Linked DNA regions of Homo sapiens. The protein of the gene in region 1 purifies or fractionates together with the protein of each later gene. This does not show direct contact. Each region holds a gene or a part of one and is shown on either strand. Other genes may lie near its edges.

Region 1 (3,735 bases):
ATTTCTTTAATTTAGGGAAGTTGTAGTGAAAGGTTAGGTTTTTGTGGGTTTTTTGTTGTTGTTGTTGTTAACACATCCCCTTTCTTCTAATAGGGCTAGAAGAACTAGTTTGGGACAACAGTCATTAGAATTCTATTAAAATTTCTTAATACACTAATCATTTATCCTCTTTTTAAAAAATTGACACATAATAATTACACATATTTGTGGAGTATAATGTGATGTTTCAATAGACATATACATTGTATAGTGATTAAATCAGGGCATTTGGCCTATTTATCACCTCATATGTTTATCATTTCTTTGTGATGAGAACATTCAAAAATCCTCTGTTCTAGTAATTTTGAAATATACACTATAATATTGTTAACTATAGTCTCCCTACTGTGTAATAGAACACCAGAATTTATTTCTCCTATCTAACTGTAACTTTGTACCCGTCGACCAATCTCTTGATGCTTACTTAACTCGGAACTATTCCTCTGGAGTAGAAATAAAGAACCTTCCAGGAATATTGACCTGTAGGGTCCTTAAAGGCAGTGCCTCGCTTTGCTTCTTGTGTCACTATCACCTACCCTGAAACCTGGCAAACTGAGATCATTAGAGACACCTTCATTTAATGCCAGTTAGAAAAATACAGAAACACAAGAGTTATATCTAGTAAAAGCAAGAGGAAGGGAACTGATATTTATTTGGAACTTAACCATGTCAGGAACAACATTATTGTATTTTCTATTGACAAGAGTCCTGTGAGGTAGCTATAATCTATTTTCAAGAAGAGGAAAACTAAAGCAATCAGTCAATCTTAGAAAGGTTAAAATCATAATAGAACAAAATTTGAACTCAGCTCTTCATGATTTCTCAGTTCATTTGCTTTTCAGTATAAGTTGCCCTTCTGTGTGGGGGTCTCTTATTTACACTTCCCTGTCTCTACCTCTTTATCTTCCTTTTAGTTTCTTCCTCTTTTTAAAAAGTGTCTTTCTCTTCTTAAAATGATGTATATTTAGAAATCTAGACATTAAGAGAGTGGATCCCACACATCGCTAGTGAAAATATAAATTGGTATAGTCTTTTGGGTAAAGATACATATATATATATATATATATATATATATATATATATATATATATATATACATATACATAAACACACATGTGTATATTGATGGTTCCTATAACTTTGTGGTGGAAAAACAAGAACTGAACACAAAGCTTATCAGTAGGTGAATGACCAAATGTCCTACATCCTTGATATTGAATATTATGCAGCCACTAGTGATTTCTAAGCTGTATTGTTAAGTGAGAAATTATATATGTACTTTATATAGGTACATATATAATGATTCCACTTTTTCAAAACAGTGACAGAATAACCCTATATGTGTTTTTATATGATTATAAAGCATGGATTTTTTAACAGTGTTCATGTGAGAGAGAGGTAGTAAGAGAAGTATTAAGATTGTGTTCCCATGTATTACAATGAGTCTGCACATGGGTACTCACAAAAGGATGCATGAAAGTATAGTCACCAGCTAGAAATCTAGTCAACATGAATCCCTCTCTCTCTCTCTCTCCCCACCTAATCAGTCTCAAAGTTCTGGTGATTTTCAAGAGTTTCTCACATATTTTTCCTACTTTCCATGTCTTCTACTATTGCTTTATTTGTCATTTTTGCTTCAGCTACTGAAACAGCCCCCTGACTAGCCCTCCTGCCTTGAGTCTTGTCCACCTCAAATCCACCAACGATTTACTTGCCAAAGTAGACCTATCCAGGGATATCTAACACGTAAACTCTCTACTTAAAACTCTTTGTTGATGCCTTCTTACCTGCACTACAAAAGCCAAACCCCTTAGGGTGATCTAAAAAGCCTGGCAAAACTAGGGCTTGACCACTTCTGTCATTCCCCACCTTCCGCATTTACTCTGACAACTGCAGACTGCCAGTGGTTGTCCGTCTAGGCCATGGGGACTATCCTCAGGTCTTTGCTTATGCTGTTACTCCTGTTTGAAATCCTCTTCACATCTTTCCCTTCAGCTCCCCACCTCTCTCCCTCCTTCATTTATCCTTTCAAACTGGTTTCTGGGGTCTCCCTGATCTCCCCTCAACCTCCAGCTAGGCTAAGCTGGGTGACTCTCCCGTATGGCTAAGCTGGGTGACTTTCCTGTATGGCTAAGCTGGGTGACTCTCCTGTATGCCTCTATCTTGTACTTACCCTGTGTACTGTCATGAATTCTTTCTCACTTTCTCTTCTTTACTAAGCAAGGGCGGGAACTGACATTCTCGTCATTATAATTCTGGTACTTACCATAGTTCCTGGCACTGTTTAGTTGCTCCACAATTGAATGCCAAGATGCTATCCCCTTGGCCACCACGTGCATGGATCTTTGAATCATAACCAAAAGTGATTTCACATTCAAACTTTAGAGATTGAAATGAATCATCTTCATATTTAGTAAGTGGAAAAGATGTTTCTTTTATATATCTCTAATACAAATAACTTACCAGGTTAAAAGGGTGAGATAATAAGGCTGATACACTTTATTCATTGTTTAAATTGATATATATATATATTTTTTAAATTGATACATATGTTTTTAAGTAATTAATGTGCAATCATGGTATTTACACTGTAGCAATTAAAATTAAGGTAGCTTTGTTACTAAATGATTATGGTGGGGATATAGTTATTTAGACTCTCAAGAGTAGAACTGCATAGTTATTTAAATATTGATTCTGTGGGTACAGATAGGTATTGTTGAAATAAGTGATATTTGGTTGATAATCTGCAATAAGTGAGGCTTAGTGCCTATGATGATGCCACACACTGGGAACCAACAAGTCCCAAAGAAATGTTAGTTTTGATATTTTCAGCTTGTTAGGCATTTTTAAAAATGACTCATATGTAGCTGAAAATTCTGTATTAATGACCAGCCACAGACCAGGGCAGTGGTTAGTTTGAGTTGAGTAATAGAATAGTATATTTTGGGGGCTAATTTTCAAAGTGTTTAGAAAGAGACATTTGACTTTTAAGTTAAGAGAACTGGAGTTGCTAATAAACACTGCAGAAAACAGAAATGTCTTCTATCTGATTTAATGATTACAACACAAATTATACTCTTTCAGGCCGGGATATTACAGCTCATGTTTCTGAAAAGACTCTCTACATGTTAATTTTTCCACTATTACTAGTTTCACTTTAAAGAATAGCAGTTTGAAAGGTAAACTGTTCATAACATTGAACAGGGTAGAGTTTAGGTTTGTTACCATGAGTATTTTTGCTCCTTAATGCTATTTCAATCATTTTAATAGCAGTAATTTTGTTTTTTTTTTCAGTGGCATACTTCCCAGTTAAAAATATTTTTTATAATCACGATGAATTATGTAATATGTGCTTTTTTTTTTCTACTACAATTTTTCATAAAAAGGAGTTTTATGGAAATTATAGACAGTAAAGTGATCATTACTATATTAACTGTGATTATAAATGGGTTGTTTTCAGGACAGATTTTAGTTCATGGTGAAGTGAATGTTTCTTTTTTGAAAACTTATGTAAAAGTCTGTTAAAGCTGGCTTTAGCTTTCATTTTAACCTGACAGCCATCCTAAATAATTTCTATGCAAATAATAGATTTTCATGTACAATTTCCAAATGGCATGCTTGTGTGGATATAATTGCATAATCAACTGCTAATGCAAATTATCATTCAGTGAAATTGTTTAAAGTGAGCAGTAACCA
Region 2 (3,500 bases), on another chromosome or scaffold:
TTTTTTCTTTTTTTGGTAGAGATGGGGTTTCGCCATGTTGCCCAAGCTGGTCTCAAACTTCTGAGTTCAGGCAGTCTGCCTGCCTCAGCCTCCTAAAGTGCTGGGATTACAGGCGTCGGCCACCACATTGGTACAATGAAATCGATTTTTGTTCCTAAATTCTAGCCTTGACCCAGGGGGATTTTCCCCTCATAGCCTAGGCAGTCATATATTGACTAGTTAATAATATTTTAGAAACAGTTAGTTTTACTAAAATTGTTATACAGTTTTGGAAATGGCATTTTAGGAGCTTCAATTTCTTTTTTTTTTTTTCCTCCCTATAGTTATGAGTTGCAGAAACGAATTGCTGAAATGGAAACTCAAAAGGAAAAAATTCATGAAGATACCAAAGAAATTAATGAGAAGAGCAATATACTATCAAATGAAATGAAAGCTAAGAATAAAGATGTAAAAGATACAGAAAAGTAATAATATTTTGGGAAGTACTAAAAGTATTTAGATAATTGTATTACATGTGTATTTATATATAAAGTTACTTCTAGCACATTGTGAGTGTAAGACATTTGCCAGCATATCAAGTGGTGGCCCCCTTAGTGAAAAAAAAAAACTTGCCTTGCATCCAGTTCCTTGTTACAGATGAAATTCCCTACTCTGAAGTCTTAGAACCGTGGGGATGCTACCCCCTAGTGGCGTAGCACAGTAACAAACAATAAGCATTTGGCTTCACAGTTTAATCTTTTAGTAGTCCACAAATCTGATAGAGGGATAGGATTTGGGTTTTTCTAGATAGATTTTTAAGGGTTTTATCATGTCCCTACTTGATGCCATTTTTCAATGACACTAGTATCTCTAATTATTTTTAAATAAAAAAATTTGTATAGTAAGTTTATTGTATAGTAACTTGTAAGTATATTCGTAAAAGGTAAAACCAAAATTTTACTCCTATGGTAAAATTTTTATATACCTAGACATTGTAGTCACTGGAAAATGTGTTATTTTCCCTCCAACTTAGAAAGGCAAAATAGCTGTCATAATCAAAAATACAGGTGCTTCTTCAACTATGGGGAGAGGGATCATCTTGGAATAAGGAGAGTTTTAGGATCCTGCCTTATTAAGAGCCTGGACATATTTATAGAGGAAGTGTTCCAGGTAGGAAATGTGGTTTTAAAATATGTGCACATTCAAAATAATGACTTACAATATACTTGCTTTGCTAGGAAACTGAATAAAATTACAAAATTTATTGAGGAGAATAAAGAAAAATTTACACAGCTAGATTTGGAAGATGTTCAAGTTAGAGAAAAGTTAAAACATGCCACGAGTAAAGCCAAAAAACTGGAGAAACAACTTCAAAAAGATAAAGAAAAGGTAGGTGTTAGAAAAAAATTCTTAAAATTTCACGTCTGAATATCATACCTAGTTTTCATGGATGTGTTTGCCCCTTATTGCCTAAGAGAATGAATTAGTATTCTAAATGTTGTTTTAAGGTTTGTCTCTGAACATGATTTTACCCCCTCAAGGGAAACCTTGCTTCTACTGACTTTATTTTGCAGGAGGTTTTTTGTTTGGTTTTGGAATTTTGCAGAGATGGGGTCTCAGTCTGTTGTCCAGGCTAGCGTGCAGTGGTATGATTATAGTCTTGAACTCCTGGGCTTAAGAAACCTACCTCAGCCTCCCAAAGTAACGTGGACTACAGGTGTGAGCCATTGCTCCTAGCTTGACTTTGAGTTTTAAAGTTTATATTACAATAATATGTTATTGGGAAAACATTTACCAAATCAGGAGTTCCATTTTGGTGTTAATTTTAATTTTCTTTTTCCTAAAGTAGTAGTTTTTAAAGATATTTAAGTTAGGTATTACAGACTTAAAAATATTGCCTGTCTTCTACAAAAACTAAGCTAACAGGATCAGAGCAGGATTTCCCAAGAATTACCAATGTTGGCCAGGCACAATGGCTTACACCTGTATTCCCAGTGCTTTGGGCGGCCAAAGTTGGAGAATTGCTTGATGCCAGGAGTTTAAGACCAGCCTGGGCAACATAGTAAGATCCCATCTCTACAGAAAATCCAAAATTAGCCAGGCTCAGTGGAACTTGCCTAAAAGTCCTAGCTAGTCAGGAGAGTGAGGCGGCAGGATGCCTTGAGTTCAAGATTCCAGTGAATAGTGATCAAGCCACTGCATCCAGCCTGGGTGACAAAGTGAGACTCTGTGTCTTAAAGAGAGATAGGAAAGCTCATAATTTGGAATCTCTTAAGCTGTGTTCATGTTCATAGCTCTGTCATATTTAAACAGATATGATACCTTAACCCCAGCCCCGCAAAAAAAAAGCTTTGTTCCATATGGTTACACAATAATTATAGATTAGGCTCTACTTTACGCTATAAGCATTTTCTAAATGTATTTGTTCACAAAATACTTTCTGCTTAGCACAGCTGATAAATACGTTGAGTCAGTGTTTAAGGAAGTGGCATTTTGGGAAATGTTGAACTTCACAGGTACTAGATAATCAGAGTAAACAAAATAACAAGGCTTTGGGGGTAACCCCAAAGACTTGACAGACTTAGCTAAGTGTAACTGTTACAGAGTGATTAGCCTTTAGGCATAGACTGCATGGATAAGTGATTATTATCAGAAGATGTTAATGGAGTAAAATATTAGCCCTACATGATGACTCTGGAAGAGTAAAGTTGTGAAAGATTTTAGGGTTGGGGAGATGGTAAAGATAATTTGTGGTAAGTTATGATATACCAGGAAGGATAGTTTAGAAAATTCCGTGTAGTCAGAGCATATTTATAGCTAAAGAAGAATAATTACAACCTGAAATCAGGAGAGAAGGATGACAGACCTGAGGCCCTGCCAGAGACAGTTTTCCTTCATAAGAGGTCAGGTGTTTGTAGAAGTAGTTTTACTATTAGATTGAGAGAATATAGAAATTACAGTGAATAGTCGGGAAAATACTTGTTAAAGCTAGCTAATTTAACTCTGATTATAAAGAAAAGAAGAACTAGAGGACCCTGAGAAATGCCTTTAAATATGTCAAATATTGATAGTATTGGGTAACATAAAGATGTATGCTCCTATAACTTGTTTTATAATCTCAGGTTGAAGAATTTAAAAGTATACCTGCCAAGAGTAACAATATCATTAATGAAACAACAACCAGAAACAATGCCCTCGAGAAGGAAAAAGAGAAAGAAGAAAAAAAATTAAAGGAAGTTATGGATAGCCTTAAACAGGAAACACAAGGGCTTCAGAAAGAAAAAGAAGTAAGTTTTTTTTTTTTATCAGTGTTTATTTTGGTGGCTTTTTTTTTTTTAACTTAAAGATTATTTTTTCAAAAATACTGAAACCTGAACTGGTAAGTTTGGACTTTTAATGTCCAACATTCCTAAAACTAGTCAACCTAGACTTAGATGACTATTCTTTTAATTCCTGCTGACATGTTTTTTAAAAAGTTTACTAAATGAGAGTTTGTAGTAGTAGCAGAAGGTGTGATGTCA
Region 3 (3,280 bases), on another chromosome or scaffold:
GGTGGGAGGTTGATTGGGGCAAATCCAGGCACTCCCCATGTCAACAGCCAGACAGGGCTCCAGGGCTTGTCCCAGTCAATACAGAGTTCCCTCTGCTGTCTGGCCGTCTGCCAGGGAGCCAGAAGGAAGGGCCTTGCAGCCACAGAGACACTCCACTGCCCTGGGGCACACAGTGGACACTGCTCTTCCTACTTCCTCCTCTCCTGGATGCTCATCAGCTCCTTCTGCCTCCCCCCCTTTTTTTTCCATCTTTTGTTCCCCTAAATTAATGCTGCTTGGATTTTCATCTTATTTATAAAGATAAAATCACCTGGAAGTGTCAAGGAGTGGGGCGGGGTGGCGGGGGAGAAGCAGCCGTGCTGCCAGGTCACCCAGACCTCCAGACAGCCGGCTAGCCCCACTGCCCGTTCCTTTTACGCCCAAGTTTTGCTCCTTGAGAGCAGATTGGCTGATGCCCCTGCAACCCCAGCCCAAGCTCTGCCTCAAAGACCGAGTGACATAAGCCATTCCCACCCTCCTAGGTTCACATCCAGGGCTGTGTCTTCCTTGGGGGAGGAGATGGTGTCGTTTAGATCAGGGTAAGGCAGTCAGGCGGGTGTTCACCACTGCCTTTTCTTCCTCTGAGCGTGAGAACACTGAACCCAGCCACTGCCCCTGGGTCCCTGTCCTGGAAATGGTCTAATAAATCCTTTTCCCTTCTTGAGCTACCCAAGTGATCTCATCTTTCCTTGACTCTTAACTGAGACTCTGAAGGGCCACCCTTGCTTCCAATTAAAAGACCCTCTGGTTTTCTGTCTCCTCTCTTTTCTAAAGCAGAGCAGGAAACAGAACACTGCAGTTCTTAGGCCTGTTCTCCAGTCAGGTGTGCAAGGCCTCCTCCCCTTAAGGCCTCAGAAGTTTGGCTGGGGATGTTTGTGGGATCCAGACAGTTCTTGCCGTTGTTCGGCCTACAGATCAGAGACTGCAAAGTGGGAGCCCTGCGTACCAGACCCGTCCTGCAGCTGTGTTTGTTTGGTTTGGTCTGCCGCTAACATTTAAAAGTCGAGAGTTGCTGGGCGCGGTGGCTCACGCCTGTAATCCCAGCACTTTGGGCCGCTAACATTTAAAAGTCGAGAGTTGCTGGGCGCGGTGGCTCACGCCTGTAATCCCAGCACTTTGGGAGGCCGACGCGGGCGGATCACAAGGTCAGGAAATCGAGAACATCCTGGCTAACACAGTGAAACCCCGTCTCACTAAAAATAAAAAAATTAGCCGGGCGTGGTGGTGGGCGCCTGCAGTCCCAGCTACTTGGGAGGCTGAGGCAGGAGAATGGCGTGAACCCGGGGGACGGAGCTTGCAGTGAGCCGAGATCGCGCCACTGCACTCCAGCCTGGGCGACAGAGCAAGACTCTGTCTCAAAAAAAAAAAAAAAGTCGAGAGTTGACATAAAAATTCAGAATTCTGACTTCTAGAAGATTAAATTAGGTAATGTTGGGCCTGCGTCCTCATGGGGCAGCCTGTCAGCGGCCACTAAGTAGAGGCTGCTCTGTACAGAAGGGGTCCCCCATCCCCACTCATCTGTGTTGCCTGCCCAGATAGCCCCATGGCCATTTCAGTTTGCGACCCCCAACAGACCAAGGACCCAGAGCTGGCAGCCCTGGACCCACGTCCGGCAGGCAGTGAAGCTGCAGAGGCTGTCCCACGTTTACCCCATGCATATAAACAGACCAAAGTCAAAGCACATTCACACAGAAAGACCTGGCCTAGTAAATGAAGCTTATAGCCTGCAAAGGGCTTTGTTCCAACCTTCCCTCTCCAAAACCCAGTACTGCTCCTCTACCTTTCAAACCTGGTTGGGCCAGAACTGATTACATGGCCAACTCTTGGCTCACACTGGGCTTGCACTGGGCCATTTCTTTGCTCTGGTTCAGAGCCTCTGCAGAAGTGAGCTAACTTTGGATCAGTAGCTCCAACACTTGGCTCCAGTGCTGGCAGGTTACCCCTCAACCATAGCAGCTGGGATCTTTGTGGCTTGGGGGTGCTTGTGTAAGTTCTTGGTTATGTGCCCTCAGCCACCAGGATATGAACCGTGTCTGCAGAGCTTCACTTTAGTGAGCTTACAAGTTTTTAAATTTTTACTTCTAGTTACATTTACTTGAATCAGAACGTTGTTTCCTCATTCCTACTGCTTAAACACCTTGACAAGTCCTAGGGGTTAACAAAGGTTAGCATGGCTATGGTCCATCCCTGTGCTCTAGTTAGAGCGTGAAGACACCTGACTTTCCAGTTGTCTCTCTCCATGACCAGCAACAGGAACCACTGACGCTGAACTTTGGACAGTGGCCTCAGACTCTGGCTGCCAGCACACAACCTGCCATCATCGATGTTAAACATGCTGACATGTGCAGAGGAGTTTCCTCCCTGAAATGCTCTGAAATTCACTTCTCTGCCTGGGGATTCTGTTATAAACCTTCTGCCTACATTGGCTTTCACTGTGGAAGTTGATTTCTAAAACTCTGATGAGCTCACAACGTTGACATGTATATGCGTTTTTTGTGAGTGCTTCCTGCTCAAAGTGGGAGAGATTTTACTGGAAATGCAATAAAGTTTGCATTTTATTGCTACCGATGCCCACCACAAAAGCGTTAACCTCAGAAAGCTATAAGAAGCATCAAAAGATTGCCATAGCCCCCTGTAAGAGCTTCTGAACATTGTCCAAATGAAAGGAGGCTCAGCTGAATTCTAATTTTCCTAAAGACCCATGTTTTTAGCATCTATGAGCTTTCTACAAATCTCCCCATTGGCTGCATCTCTGACCTTGCACCAGTATCTGGTTGGGATTCCCTTTTTTTTTTTTTTTTTTTTTTTTTGAGACAGAGCCTTGGTCTGTCGCCCAGGCTGGAGTACAGTGGCGAGATCTCAGCCCACTGCAACCTCTGCCTCCCAGGTTTGAGCGATTCTCCCGCCTCAGCCTCCCAAGTAGCTGTGATTACAGGCGCCTACCAGCACACCCAGCTAATTTTCATATTTTTAGTAGAAACAGTGTTTCGCCATGTTGGCCAGGCTGGTCTTGAACTCCTGACCTCAGGTGATCTGCCTGCCTTGACCTCCCAAAGTGCTGGGATTACAGGCATGAGCCACCAAGCCTGGCCGGGATTCCTTTTCAAAGTCTGGCTGCACCTAGAGCCAGTTTGCTTCTGCTTGGCCTCATGGGGCCTCAGAGAAAGCCACAAAGGAGGATGGGTCTTTCCTGGGTTCATTTAACTGCCATTTATAACACTTTTTCCTCTAAACAGCTTAA

Evidence for each region.
Region 2: the proteins of INTU (region 1) and SMC4 purify together in Homo sapiens (affinity purification with mass spectrometry; one large-scale study listed by BioGRID and IntAct). This does not show direct contact.
Region 3: the proteins of INTU (region 1) and VPS4A purify together in Homo sapiens (affinity purification with mass spectrometry; one large-scale study listed by BioGRID and IntAct). This does not show direct contact.

What each region holds. Positions count from the first base shown.
Region 1 is NC_000004.12:127,639,457-127,643,191, forward strand, and holds part of INTU (protein inturned), read left to right. Parts: intron 1-3,735. UniProt on the Homo sapiens protein: Plays a key role in ciliogenesis and embryonic development.
Region 2 is NC_000003.12:160,413,150-160,416,649, forward strand, and holds part of SMC4 (structural maintenance of chromosomes protein 4), read left to right. Parts: intron 1-323; coding exon 324-464; intron 465-1,217; coding exon 1,218-1,368; intron 1,369-3,101; coding exon 3,102-3,266; intron 3,267-3,500. UniProt on the Homo sapiens protein: Central component of the condensin complex, a complex required for conversion of interphase chromatin into mitotic-like condense chromosomes.
Region 3 is NC_000016.10:69,324,337-69,327,616, forward strand, and holds the end of VPS4A (vacuolar protein sorting-associated protein 4A), read left to right. Parts: 3' UTR 1-2,603; downstream 2,604-3,280. UniProt on the Homo sapiens protein: Involved in late steps of the endosomal multivesicular bodies (MVB) pathway. Recognizes membrane-associated ESCRT-III assemblies and catalyzes their disassembly, possibly in combination with membrane fission.